Regions from separate parts of the Homo sapiens genome. Here regions 2 and 3 are each linked to region 1. The links come from fine-mapping of genetic effects on gene expression. A gene starts in region 1. Each other region holds a variant in brackets. All regions are shown on one strand. Distances are from middle to middle. Region 1 holds the start of SLC39A1 (solute carrier family 39 member 1). Region 2 has its middle 17 kb from the start of S100A2. Region 3 overlaps GATAD2B (GATA zinc finger domain containing 2B).

What was found. PIP is the estimated chance that this variant, and not a neighbour inherited with it, causes the effect.
Region 2: its variant is the best candidate, but not a certain one, in a credible set for the expression of SLC39A1 in monocytes (BLUEPRINT, PIP 0.56).
Region 3: its variant is the best candidate, but not a certain one, in a credible set for the expression of SLC39A1 in monocytes (Fairfax 2014, PIP 0.87).

Annotation. Positions count from the first base shown.
Region 1 is chr1:153,961,866-153,966,213 of GRCh38, forward strand. It overlaps SLC39A1 (solute carrier family 39 member 1), which reads right to left and starts at 1,672. Exons shown (of 4, transcript NM_001271958.2): 1 at 1,630-1,672; 2 at 664-882; 3 at 355-485. The coding sequence starts at 850. It overlaps MIR6737 (microRNA 6737), which reads right to left and starts at 555; the gene lies at 486-555. RefSeq lists enhancers at 956-1,910, 1,239-1,308, 1,260-2,459, 1,349-1,408, 1,559-1,728 and 1 more.
Region 2 is chr1:153,580,571-153,584,918 of GRCh38, forward strand. No RefSeq gene overlaps it. Among named protein-coding and RNA genes, the nearest start is that of S100A2, 17 kb to the left of the region's middle. RefSeq lists an enhancer at 2,513-3,437. The variant T/G (reference allele first, on the strand shown) is at 2,372.
Region 3 is chr1:153,876,110-153,880,109 of GRCh38, forward strand. The region is part of intron 1 of GATAD2B (GATA zinc finger domain containing 2B); the gene reads right to left. Among named protein-coding and RNA genes, the nearest start is that of GATAD2B, 45 kb to the right of the region's middle. The variant CT/C (reference allele first, on the strand shown) is at 2,053.

The DNA.
Region 1 (4,348 bases):
TCAGGCCTACAGAGACCTCTATCTCCAGCCCTTTAGGAAAGTGGTGAGAGAGTGAAGATGATTCTTGGAGCACTTGCTGGTAGCTAGAACTGAGAACCCATAGAGCAAGTCACACACCTGAGAAAAAGTGTCTTACTGTCTCAACGGGAATGTAGGGGTCACACAGGGAATGGGGAAGGGGGAGGGAACACATAGAAAGAATTATGCCCCATAACCAAAAATCACAATTCATACCACATGCCAAAAGTCTTCCACACAGTCATGGAGTGGCACATGAATCAATCTCCACAAACCAACACTCCCAGAGGTGTGTGATTCCCCTCCCGCAAGTCACATGCCCAGGCCAGTGCTCACCGTCACGTGCAAGGCTGCCAGGGCCTCATCTATGGCAGCCAGGTAGTCAGGCAGCAGGTCCAGGAGACAAGTGGCCAAAAAGACGCCCCCCGCGAAACAGCTTACTAGGCTCAGGGCTTTCTGGCGGGAAGCTGGGTAGGGGTGAAGCACAGAGGGGAATAAGCAAACAAACCCCCTCCAGGGCCGACCACCCCAACCCAAACAATGGCTACCCTTGCCTTTCCCTCCTCCTTTGGTCACTCCCCGCCAGCCCCAGAGCCCTCCCTAAGCCAAGCATTCATAGCAGTGTGGGGAAAAGGAGAGGCTTACCTGAGCCTTCATGGTTAGCTCCTGGCCGGCGCAGCACACAGATGGGCACCAGGCTGCAGAGGAGGGTGAGCACCAGCAGCAGCACCAGGGCCCCCAACTTCACCTCCAGCCCCACAGGCACTGGAGGCTCTGAAGCTACCGCCTCGGGGCGCCACACCAGGAGCTCTGGCTCTCCCCAGGGCCCCATGATGCTTCTGGTAGCTCCAGTGACTCTCAGACCTAGGAAGACAGACCAGAGTGGTTGGGAAAAATCATGCAAAGGAAGATGGGGCAAGGAATGGGGAAGCTTGGTCAGCAGAGTGCAGCTCCCTGGCCCCAGCCACTTTGTGACCTTCCCCTACCCAGGGTGACTCATCTACTCCTGTACCAGGAACATTCCTCTCTTCTCACACTTTCTTTCCCAAGTGACTTATTCAGGGAGACTGCACGGGGGAAACCGAGGCATGAGAAAGGCTGTATGGATATCTCATCACCCTTTCACCTGGTGCCCCCAGAAAACTAGGAAACTAGGAGCCGCCTCCAAATAGGACCTGGAGCTGGAGTTCCCCTAAGGAATGTAGAGGCCGGGTCCCCAACTCCCGAACGGAGTGGGTGAAGCCAAAAAGGCTAGGGCTGTGCAGAGATGTCTTGGGTAGCTTCGTGGGCCACCTGGACAGGGTAAGTTTGGGTGCTGGATCGCTCCATCGTTCCCCTTTTCCCAGCGCAGAGAACAAGCGCTTCAGGCCCCAGGATGGGACCTAGAGGCAGATGGCCAAAGAGAGGGGCCCTAAGAGTCTGCGGTCCCGGGACGGACTGAGGCGACACTGAGGGCGGTGCCTGAAAGTCCGGGCTCCAGGAGGCGGGGTGCGAGGCCGCCAAGCGTCGCGGGAAGCAGATGAAGAATGCGTGAGCTGGGACTCCTGTTCCCGGGCCCGGGGAGGCCTGGGCAGCCGACATGGACCCCGCTGCCAGACAGCCCGCACTCACCTCGCGAGGGTCTCACTACATGGTCTCCGCGCGCTTCCGGCCTAGAGTCGGGAATTCCCGCCCCCTCCCATAGCTCCCCCCTCCCCCACAGGAGCCGCGTACCCACGACCGACTGCCAATGGCAGCACCGAGTGGGCGGGGACAGACCGGGAGTGACGTCAGTTAGGAGCAATCAGAGATCGGGAGCGGGAGCGGGCGGAGCAGGCGACCTGAGGAGAGTGAGCGAGAGCAAGAGCGGATATTAGGAAAAGGACCTCGGGGCTGGGGCCCTGGGGCGCATCTGTGGAGGACTGAGGGGCCGGAGCGGGCCAGTCAACAAAGGCTTTGATTATATGGATATTTTTAAAAGAGGGAGACCCCGCATTGTCAAGTCTTCCGGCCCACATCTGAAAACATCTTCCTGGCCTTGGGCCAAAGTCTCATCTGTCCCTCAGAAGGCTCTGACACCTCGTCAGTGCCTCTTGGCGCCCAAGGGAAAGCATTCCCCTCTTGGGACCAACTTCCTTGACTGCTTTCCCTCACCAGCACCCACAACAAGGAAAAAGACAAGGCAGAATTGGAAAGGGGGGAAAGCAAAGAGAGGGTATGTCTTGAAAATCATCCCTTCTCGACTACTTATGGCACTCAGTGCAGCCTCCGCCTTCTCCAGGTGGGTGGGGACGTGGTGGGACCGGAATGCGGGGTGCTGAAGCCGCGCCCAGGGAAGAGCCCCCAGCGCATTCCAGGATATCTGCGTACCGCGCCTGCGGGCGTCTGGCCGGTTCTCCCACCTGATTTCCAGCCCAGCTCCCGCCACCCTCGCCGGTCGGTTTGCTGTTTGCTGTTCCTTGAATGCCCCAAGGTAGTTGTTTCAGCTCAGGACTTTCACCGTTTCCTCAACCTGGATTCTTGTGGCCCACAACTCTGTGCCTTGAGAATCCTCTTCTAGCCTCAAGGGACGGTAAGACAAAAGAAAATTTAAAAAGGGGGCTCAGCTGTTCTTTTATGCAAAGGTGAAAAAAGCTTCATTGCCTAAAGAAGGGACAGATGGGATCTTGCTTCCTACAGGAAAATTAATTTTAAAAAAGAAAAAAAAAAGGGGGGACAGTGTAATGCTTCTCACAAGGCTCCAGAAACGAAGCCCAGTAATTCCTTAAGTAAAAGAGGAATGTGAAGACTTCTTAAGGGGCCGGGCGCGGTGGTTCACGCCTGTAATCCAAGCACTTTGGAAGGCCGAGGATGAATCACCTGAGGACAGAAGTTCAAGACCAGCCTGGTCAACATGGTGAAACCCCGTCTCTACTAAATATACAAAAATTAGCCGGGCGTGGTGGCGGGGGCCTGTAATCCCAGCTACTCGGGAGGCCGAGGCAGGAGAATCGCTTGAACCCGGGAGCCGGAAATTGCAGTGAGCCGAGATCGCGCCATTGCGCTCCAGCCTGGGCAACAACAGCGAAACTTCGTCTCAAAAAAAAAAATTATTCGTAATTGGTAACATTAACAAGGAATTATGACTGGGGGGGTCAGGAAACCTGGATTCTGGTCCAAGTTCTACCTTTATAGTTGTCAAATATATATATTTGTTTATTTATACACATACATATGTCATATATGATTAATAATTGTATATATTTATGGTGTACAACATGATGTTTTGAAATATATGTACATTGGGCCGGGCGCGGTGGCTCACGCCTGTAATCCCAGCACTTTGGGAAGCCGAGGCGGGCAGATGACGAGGTCAGGAGTTGGAGACCAGCCTGCTCAACATGGTGAAACCCTGTCTCTACTAAAAATACAAAAATTAGCCAGGCGTGGTGGCGCATGCCTATGATCCCAGCTACTCAGGAGGCTGAGGCAGGAGAATCGCTTGAACCGGGGAGGCGGAGGTTGCAGTGAGCCAAGATCACACCTCTGCACTCCAGCCTGGACGACACAGCGAGACTCCGTCTCAAAAAAAAAGAAAAAAGAAAAGAAATATATGTACATTGCAGAATGGGTAAATCAAGCTAATTAACATATGCATTACTTCACATATTTATTTGTGATGAGAACATTTAAAATCTCTTGGCAACTTTATTTCTTTTCTTTTTCCTTCCTTCCTTCCTTTCTTCTTTCCTCCTTTCTTTCTTGACAGAGTCTTGCTGTGTTGCCCAGGCTGGAATGCAGTGGCATGCTCTTGGCTCACTACAACTTCTGCCTCCCAGGTTTCAAGCAATTCTCCCGCCTCGGCCTCCCGAGTAGCTGGGATTACAGGCGCCCGCCACCACGCCCGGCTAATTTTTGTATTTTTAGTAGAGACGGGATTTCACCATGTTGACCAGGCTGGTCTTGAACTCCTGACCTCAGGTGATCCACCCGCTTCAGCCTCCCAAAGTGCTGGGACTGCAGGTGTGAGCCACCACACCCGGCCCAATAGATCTCCTCAATTTTACCTTACCTTGATGTATGATTTTAGGCAAGTCAGTTTTCCTCACCAGAGTTTGATAAATCAGGGGCAAGGAGGAAGTTAAACAAGCAGATGACTGCAGAGGGTCCTTCCAGTTCTAACATCAACGGAAGCTAACTACATTCCCCACTCAAATCATCTCTGCACATACAGCCCGCAGGAAGCCCTTTGAAATGTATTTAACCACCTTTCTCGCTCTCAGAATGATCTCAACAAGAACAGCTTTGCTTTCCTTGGAGCTCTGCATCAATCTAGGAAGGCTGCTTTGTCTCTTCACTACTTGAGCAGGAT
Region 2 (4,348 bases), 380 kb before region 1:
GAGAACAAAGCATACGATAATGAATAAAATAATCTAAAATAAATACTTTCAAACATAAAATAAATAAAATAAAATAAATACTTGACTCCAGATCTAATGGACACACCCACCTTTTTTTTTTTTTTTTTTTTTTTTTTTTTTTTTTTTTTTTGAGATGGCCTCACTCTGTTGCGCAGGCTGGAGTGCAGTGGCACAATCATGGTTCACTGCAGCATTGACCTCCCTGGGCTCAGGTGATCCTCTCACCTCAGCCTCCAAGTAGCTGGGACTACAGGTGTGCACTACCATGCCTGGCTAATTTTTATTTTATTTATTTATTTTTTTTAAGACCGAGTCTCACTCTGTTGCCCTAATTGGAGTGCAGTGGCGCCATATCGGCTCACTGCAACCTCCGCCTGCTGGGTTCAAGCGATTCTCCTGCCTCAGCTTCCCAAGTAGCTGGGATTATAGGCACAAGCCACCACGTCCAGCTAATTTTTTATTTTTAGTAGAGATGGGGTTTCACCACGTTGGCCAGGCTGGTCTCAAACTCCTGACCTCAGGTAATCCGCCCGCCTCGGCCTCCCAAAGTGCTGGGATTACAGGATTAAGCCACCACGCCCAGCTAATATTTTTTTGTAGAGACAGGGTTTCCTCATGTTGCCCAGACTGGTCTCGAACTCCAGGCTCAAGTGCGCCACTGACCTTGGCCTCTCAAAGTGCTGGGATTACAGGTGTGAGCCACTGTTCCCAGCCAGGCACATCATGTTCTAAGAAAAGAAAATGATCCAGACTTATCAAAGCCAGGACATATTCTGATAAAGTTATTGCGTTAAGGAAAAATAGCTAGACTTCCATTTCTATCGATTATTTTTCTTTTCTTTCTTTTTTTCTTTTGTTTGTTTGGTTTTTTTTTTTATTTTCAACAGGGGCTTCTGCAATAGAATCTATCTGGTTAAAACATGACAGTGATACTTTTTTTATTTCACAGCTAAGTTCACATTAAAGTAAAGAAAACCCTTCTAGGCCCAAAGCGAAGGGGAAACTAAAAACCAATTAGGCGTGAGTTAATGCTACAGCTGTTCTTGGGAAGGGACGGTTTCTAATCTCAGAAAACAAGGGGCTTCAGTTTTCAAGGACCAATCGTGAAGAGATGGGTCCTTATAACTGCAAGTATCTGGGAATCCGAAAGCCACCTTACATGAAGCAAGGTGCCCCAAGTACCACTTTCTTGGTGAAAGAATGGGCTGAAAGAAAAAACCTCTCATGAGCAAAATGAGATTTCGAGGAAGCTTGTACGTCTTCGCCTGGGCTCTGGATGGAGAAAGTTTTCTTAGAGAAATTTTAACCTTGGGCCTGTCTTCATGCAGATTTGGGATTTTAGTTTACATGGCTGGAATGGTTCAGAAAACCCCAAAGCCAAGAAGTCAACATAAAAAGTAATACTAAACTGGTTTTGGCCTTGGGGCACTTGGGAAAAGCAAAACAAAATTACTTTGAAGACTTATACTCTTAAACCAGATTAACCAGGATTCCCCCAGCTAAAGCTGAGGTTGACATTTTTTAAATTAGATGAAATAGGCAGCTTTGCAGGAAAAAAAATTATATATATGTAAATTTTATATATATGTAAATTATTTATATGTAAAGCTGACCAACATTGACTAAGAAGGAGAAAATCTGAAGACCTATAATCATTAAAGAAATTGATTAGCAGTATAAATCTACCTAACAAAGATAAAATTGATGGTTTTCATAGACAAGTTTACCAAATAAGAAAAAAAATCCTTTTCCACGGTCTCCCTCTGATGCCAAGCCGAAGCTGGACTGTACTGCTGCCATCTCGGCTCACTGCAACCTCCCTGCCTGATTCTCCTGCCTCAGCCTGCCGAGTGCCTGCGATTGCAGGCGCGCGCCGCCACGCCTGACTGGTTTTTGTATTTTTTTGGTGGAGACGGGGTTTCGCTGTGTTGGCCGGGCTGGTCTCCAGCTCCTAACCGCGAGTGATCCGCCAGCCTCGGCCTCCCGAGGCGCCGGGATTGCAGACGGAGTCTCGTTCACTCAGTGCTCAATGGTGCCCAGGCTGGAATGCAGTGGCGTGATCTCGGCTCGCTACAACCACCTCCCAGCCGCCTGCCTTGGCCTCCCAAAGAGCCGAGATTGCAGCCTCTGCCCGGCCGCCACCCCGTCTGGGAAGTGAGGAGCGTCTCTGCCTGGCTGCCCATCGTCTGGGATGTGAGGAGCCCCTCTGCCTGGCTGCCCAGTCTGGAAAGTGAGGAGCGTCTCTGCCCGGCCGCCATCCCATCTAGGAAATGAGGAGCGTCTCTGCCCGGCCGCCCATCGTCTGAGATGTGGGAAGCGCCTCTGCCCCGCCGCCCCGTCTGGGATGTGA[T/G]AAGCGCCTCTGCCCGGCCGCGACCCCGTCTGAGAAGTGAGGAGACCCTCTGCCTGGCAACCGCCCCGTCTGAGAAGTGAGGAGTCCCTCCGCCCGGCAGCCACCCCGTCTGAGAAGTGAGGAGCCCCTCCCTCCGTCAGCCACCCCGTCTGGGAAGTGAGGAGCGTCTCCACCCGGCAGCCACCCCCGTCCGGGAGGGAGGTGGGGGGGTCAGCCCTCCGCCCGGCCAGCCGCCCCGTCCGGGAGGTGCGGGGCGCCTCTGCCCAACCGCCCCTACTGGGAAGTGAGGAGCCCCTCTGCCCGGCCAGCTGCCCCGTCCGGGAGGGAGGTGGGGGGGGTCAGCCCCCCGCCCGGCCAGCCGCCCCGTCCGGGAGGTGAGGGGTGCCTCTGCCCGGCCGCCTCTACTGGGAAGTGAGGAGCCCCTCTGCCCGGCCACCACCCTGTCTGGGAGGTCTACCCAACAGCTCATTGAGAACCGGCCATGATGACAATGGCGGTTTTGTGGAATAGAAAGGGCGGAAAGGTGGGGAAAAGATTGAGAAATCGGATGGTTGCCGTGTCTGTGTAGAAAGTAGACATGGGAGACTTTTCATTTTGTTCTGTACTAAGAAAAATTCTTCTGCCTTGGGATCCTGTTGATCTGTGACCTTACCCCCAACCCTGTGCTCTCTGAAACATGTGCTGTGTCCACTCAGGGTTAAATGGATTAAGGGCGGTGCAAGATGTGCTTTGTTAAACAGATGCTTGAAGGCAGCATGCTCATTAAGAGTCAACACCACTCCCTAATCTTAAGTACCCAGGGACACAAACACTGCAGAAGGCCGCAGGGTCCTCTGCCTAGGAAAACCAGAGACCTTTGTTCACTTGTTTATCTGCTGACCTTACCTCCACTATTGTCCTATGGCCCTGCCAAATCCCCCTCTGCGAGAAACACCCAAGAATGATCAATTAAAAAATAAATAAATAAATAAATTTAAAAAAAAAAAAAACAAAAGTCAGCCAAAAAAAAAAAGAAAAAAAAATCATACAAACTTAAATTTCCAGAAAATAGAAAAAGGAAATACTGCCCATATGTGGCATATATAAAATAACCTTTATGGTAGAGACTGCTAATTGTCCTATTACCTATTCTCCCCTTGTCTTTCACAGCAAAAGAATCTTTGCTTTTAAGTTCAAATAAAGGCCACACTTCCCAGCCTTCCTTGCAGCTGAGTGTAGCCATATGACTAAGTTCTGGCCAAGAGAAGTAGAAATGGGGTATGCAAGTTTTGATTCATGCTCAAAAGTCAGAGACATGCCGTTTCTTCACCCTGCCACTTAGAAAGTACATGAGCTATTTGGACCATACGAACTAGGGGTGGTTAAGCAGAACCACCAAACCAGCCCTGGACCACCAACCTCCAGATAATACAGGACAGAAAAAAAAAACTTCCCTCTCATTCACGTCACCACTATTTTTGGTATCCGTTACATACAGCCAAACCCATGTACCAAGCAGATCATCCTACATACCAACACCAGAAATGTATCGTATGAGAAAGGAAAATTGAGACCCAATCTCACTTATGATTATAGATGCAAAATCCTAAATAAACTGTTAGCAAATGGAATCAAGTATTATACTTAAGAAAAATTATGACTAAGTTGGGTTTATGTCATGATTGCAGGGATGACTTTAACATTAGAAAATACATTAATGTAAGTCTCCACATTAAGAGATTAAAAATTAAAACCATATGATGATGCCAGAATAAATTCAATACCCATTTATAATAATAACGCTTAATAATCTAGGAATAGAAAGGAACATCTTGACCAACAAGCAAAAACCTACTGCAATCTTATTTTTTTTTTTTTAGTGGGGTTTCACCACGTTGCCCTCACTGGTCTCAAACTCCTGAGCTCAAAGGATCCACCTACCTCGGCCTCCCAAAGTGCTGGAATTACAGGCATGAGCCACCACACCCAGCCTGCAAT
Region 3 (4,000 bases), 86 kb before region 1:
CCCAGCTACTCAGTAGGCTGAGGCAGGAGAATCGCTTGAACCCGGGAGGCGGAGACTGCAGTGAGCTGAGATCGCGCCACTACACTCCAGCCTGGGCAACACAGTGAGACTTCGTCTCAAAAAAAAAAAAAAAAAAAAAAAAAAAAAAAAAGATTTCACAGTCCTTAAATGGCTGGGCGTGGTTAAAACACAGGACTGTCTTACCTGAGTCAATGTCCTTAACCATCGTACTATGCTATCTATATTGTCATTTTTGGTTTCCGATCCAACCAGACTGGTAAGAGAGTAATTCTTATGAAAGACTATTACTGTTTACATGCTCTTACAGTGTCTTTTCTGTATCACTGAGTTTACTACACAAACCTTTGGCTCACATTCTTGAAAGAAAGAGCCTAGATGACCTTGCAGTGGGTAACATACTGCTCAGTAATATGCACCAAGGATTGTAAAGGTCGCTATGCTTAAATGTGACAAGTTAGAGTGTGCTGCCTAGAGGTAATGAACAGGAGGTAAACAGCTTTCTCCTACTGTCACCTTACAAATCAGCACAGAAGTTCTGACATACACGAAAGCAAATGTGCCAGACAATCATTTAGAAAAGGTGATATGAGAGGTCAGGGCGGTGGCTCATGCCTATAATCCCAATACTTTGGGAGGCCAAGGCGGGCAGATCACCTGAGGACAGGAGTTTGAGACCAGCCTGGCCAACATGGTGAAACCCCGTCTCTACTAAAAATACAAAAATTAGCTGGGCATGGTGGCAGGCGCCTGTAATTTCAGCTACTCGGGAGGCTGAGGCAGGAGAATCACTCGAACCTGGTGAGGGGAGGGCGGCGGGTGGAGGTTACAGTGAGCCAAGATCGTGCCACTTCACTCCAGCCTGGGTGAAAGGCGAGACTCCGCCTCAAAAAAGAAAAGAAGAACAGGCAGTATTAGAGTGAAAGGTTCTTTGCATTGGCCCATGCCTATAATCCCAGCACTTTGGGGGGCTAAGGCAGAAGGACTGCTTAAGGCCAGGAGTTTGAGACCAGCCTGGGAAAAACAGTGAGCCTCTGTCTCTACCAAAAATAATAATAATGAAATTAGCCAGGCATGGTGACATGCCTATAGTCAGTCCTAGCTACTTGGGAGGCTGGGGCAAAAGGATCACTTGAGCCCAGGAGTTCAAGGCTGCAGTGTGCTATGATCACACTACTGCACTCCAGCCTGGGCAACAGAGTGAGACCCTGTCTCTAATAAATAAATAGAATTAAAGGGACAGACGTGGCCAAAGGGCAGATTTCACATACACTTCAAAATTACTCTTCAGCCACTCCAAAACAGCAATTAAGGCCTATGAGAGTTAAGAAAAAAAAAAAAATTTCTCATCTATCCTTTAAGAGAAGGTACTGGTTTATGCCTTGCTGATTATGACTACATAATCACTAAGATTATCCTCACTAATCTGGCTCCTAACATCAAGAGAAAAGGTAAAAATAAAGGATATAGCTGGACATGGTGGCTCATGCCTGTAATCCCAGCACTTTGGGAGGCTGAGGTGGGGCAACTGCTTGAGCTCAAGAGTTCCAGACCAGCCTGACCAACATGGTGAAACCTCGTCTCTACTAAAAATACGAAAATTAGCCGGGTGTGGTGGCACATGCTTATAATCCCAGCTACCTGGGAGGCTGAGGTGGGAGGATCACTTGAATCCAGGAGGCAGAGGCTGCAGTGAGCTGAGATCATGCCACTGCACTCCAGCCTGGGCAACAGAGTGAGACTCCATCTCAAAAAAACTTAAAAAAAAAAAAAAAAAAGGGTAATTATTACTTCTAAGAACTAGGTAATCCCACAACAACAATGAATGAATCTTTACCTAGCCTCTAGGTTGTAGCAAGTTTGGTCTGTTGCTATTTTGTCTTTCAGTACTCAACAGACTAGGAAATAATACTCCTTAGTTTACTTATAAAGGGACTTAGAAAAGTAGGCTCCAGCTCCTTGGGGTGGGGAAATAATTGCAGGCAGCCTGGGGAATAAGCAGAACAACCATTGTGGTAGGTCCCATCCTGCAAT[CT/C]TTTTTTTTTTTTCTTTTTTTTTTGAGACAGGGTCTCACTTTGTTTTCCAGGCTAGAGTGCAGTGGTGCAATCATGGCTCACTGCAGCCTCCCACCCCAGCCTCCCGAGTAGCTAGGACCACAGGCACATGCCACGACTAATTTTTTGTAAAGATGGAATCTCCCTATGTTGCCCAGGCTGGTCTCAAACTCCTGAGCTCAAGCAATTCTGCGATGGTCTCCCAAGGTGCTGGGATTACGGCTGTGAGCCACTGTGACCAGCTCATCCTACAATCCTTAAAGAAAGTAATAACCTCATATTCACTTCCTAACAAAAGGAAAAAAAGCACAGATATTAACACCAAAAAATACAGACGTTCAAAGACTATTGCTTGTAAAGATGTGGCAAGAAGAGAAATTTACAGGCTTTAACAAAAATATACAAGTTCCCAATCAAATTAAGGAATTTCCTCTAGACTGCAACCTGATAAAAACTCTTACTACAGGATTAACGAGTTTGAAAGTTCCCTCTCATTCCCAACTCTCCCCATCAGTGCTGTTATTCTGAATGGTCAGAAGCAAAAATAAACTCACATAAAACCAACTGTAACAGTGTGACCCATACTTTATTCCTTTTTTTTTTTTTTTTTTTTTGAGACAGAGTATTGCTGTGTCGCCCAGGCTGGAGTGCAGTGGTGCAATCTAGGCTCACTGCAACCTCCACCTCCCAGGTTCAAGAAATTCTTCTGCCTCAGGCTCCCGAGTAGTTGGGATTACAGGTGCCCACCACCATGCCTGGCTAATTTTTTTTTTTCTTGAGACAGTCTTGCTCTGTCGCCCAGGCTGAAAGTGCAGTGGTACGATCTTGGCTCACTGCAACCTCCGCCTCCCGGGTTCAAGCGATTCTCCTGCCTCAGCCTCCCGAGTAGCTGGGACTACAGGCGCAAGCCACCACGCCCGGCTAATTTTTTGTATTTTCAGTAAAGACAGGGTTTCACTGTCTTAGCCAGGATCGTCTCTTATCTCCTGACCTCGTGATCCGCCCGCCTCAGCCTCCCAAAGTGCTGGGATTACAGGCATGAGCCACCACACCTGGCCAATTTTTTTATTTTTAGTAGAGATAGGGTTTCACCTTGTTGGCCAGGCTGATCTCAAACTCCTGACCTCATGTGATCCACCCACCTCGGCCTCCCAAAGTGCTGGGATTACAGGCATGAGCCACCGCTCTCGGCCCCATACTTTATTCTTTAATATACTTTCTCATTTTCACCTAACACAAAAGCTGCTTCATAAATATCACACCTAGGAGGCACATAAAGAGAATTTAAGAAAAGACATCAGGCCGGGTGCAGTGGCTCACGCCTGTAATCCCAGAACTATGGGAAGTCAAGACGGGCGGATTATGAGGTCAAGAGATCGAGACCATCCTGGCCAACATGGTAAAAACCCCGTCTCTACTAAAAATACAAAAATTAGCTGGGCATGGTGGCGCAGGCCTGTAGTCCCAACTACTCAGGAGGCTGAGGCAGGAGAATCGCTTGAACCCAGGAGTCGGAGGTTGCAGCGAGCCAACAATGCGCCACTGCACTCCAGCCTGGCAACAGAGCGAGACACTGTCTACAAAAAAAAAAAAAAAAAAAAAGACATCATACTAAACTGAGCAGAATTATAATTTCTAAATGAATGCTGATCCCCTAATTGCCAATGAAAGACACAATCACTACAACTGAACCCCAAAATTGTAACACTTGCAATGCATGGACACTTAGAACAATCTCTAATTTTTCCTTCCTTCCATGTGCTGTTTGACTGTCCTTTTGTACAATTCTAACTCTGGCAGATGGCAGGGAAAGAATACCGCATTTTGATAATATCATACTAAACAGAAAAGAAGAAATAAAAAAGAAGGGGGAGTCTCGAATGAGTAGTTAATAGATATTACTTGCTCTATTATCTGGCTTTTTGCTT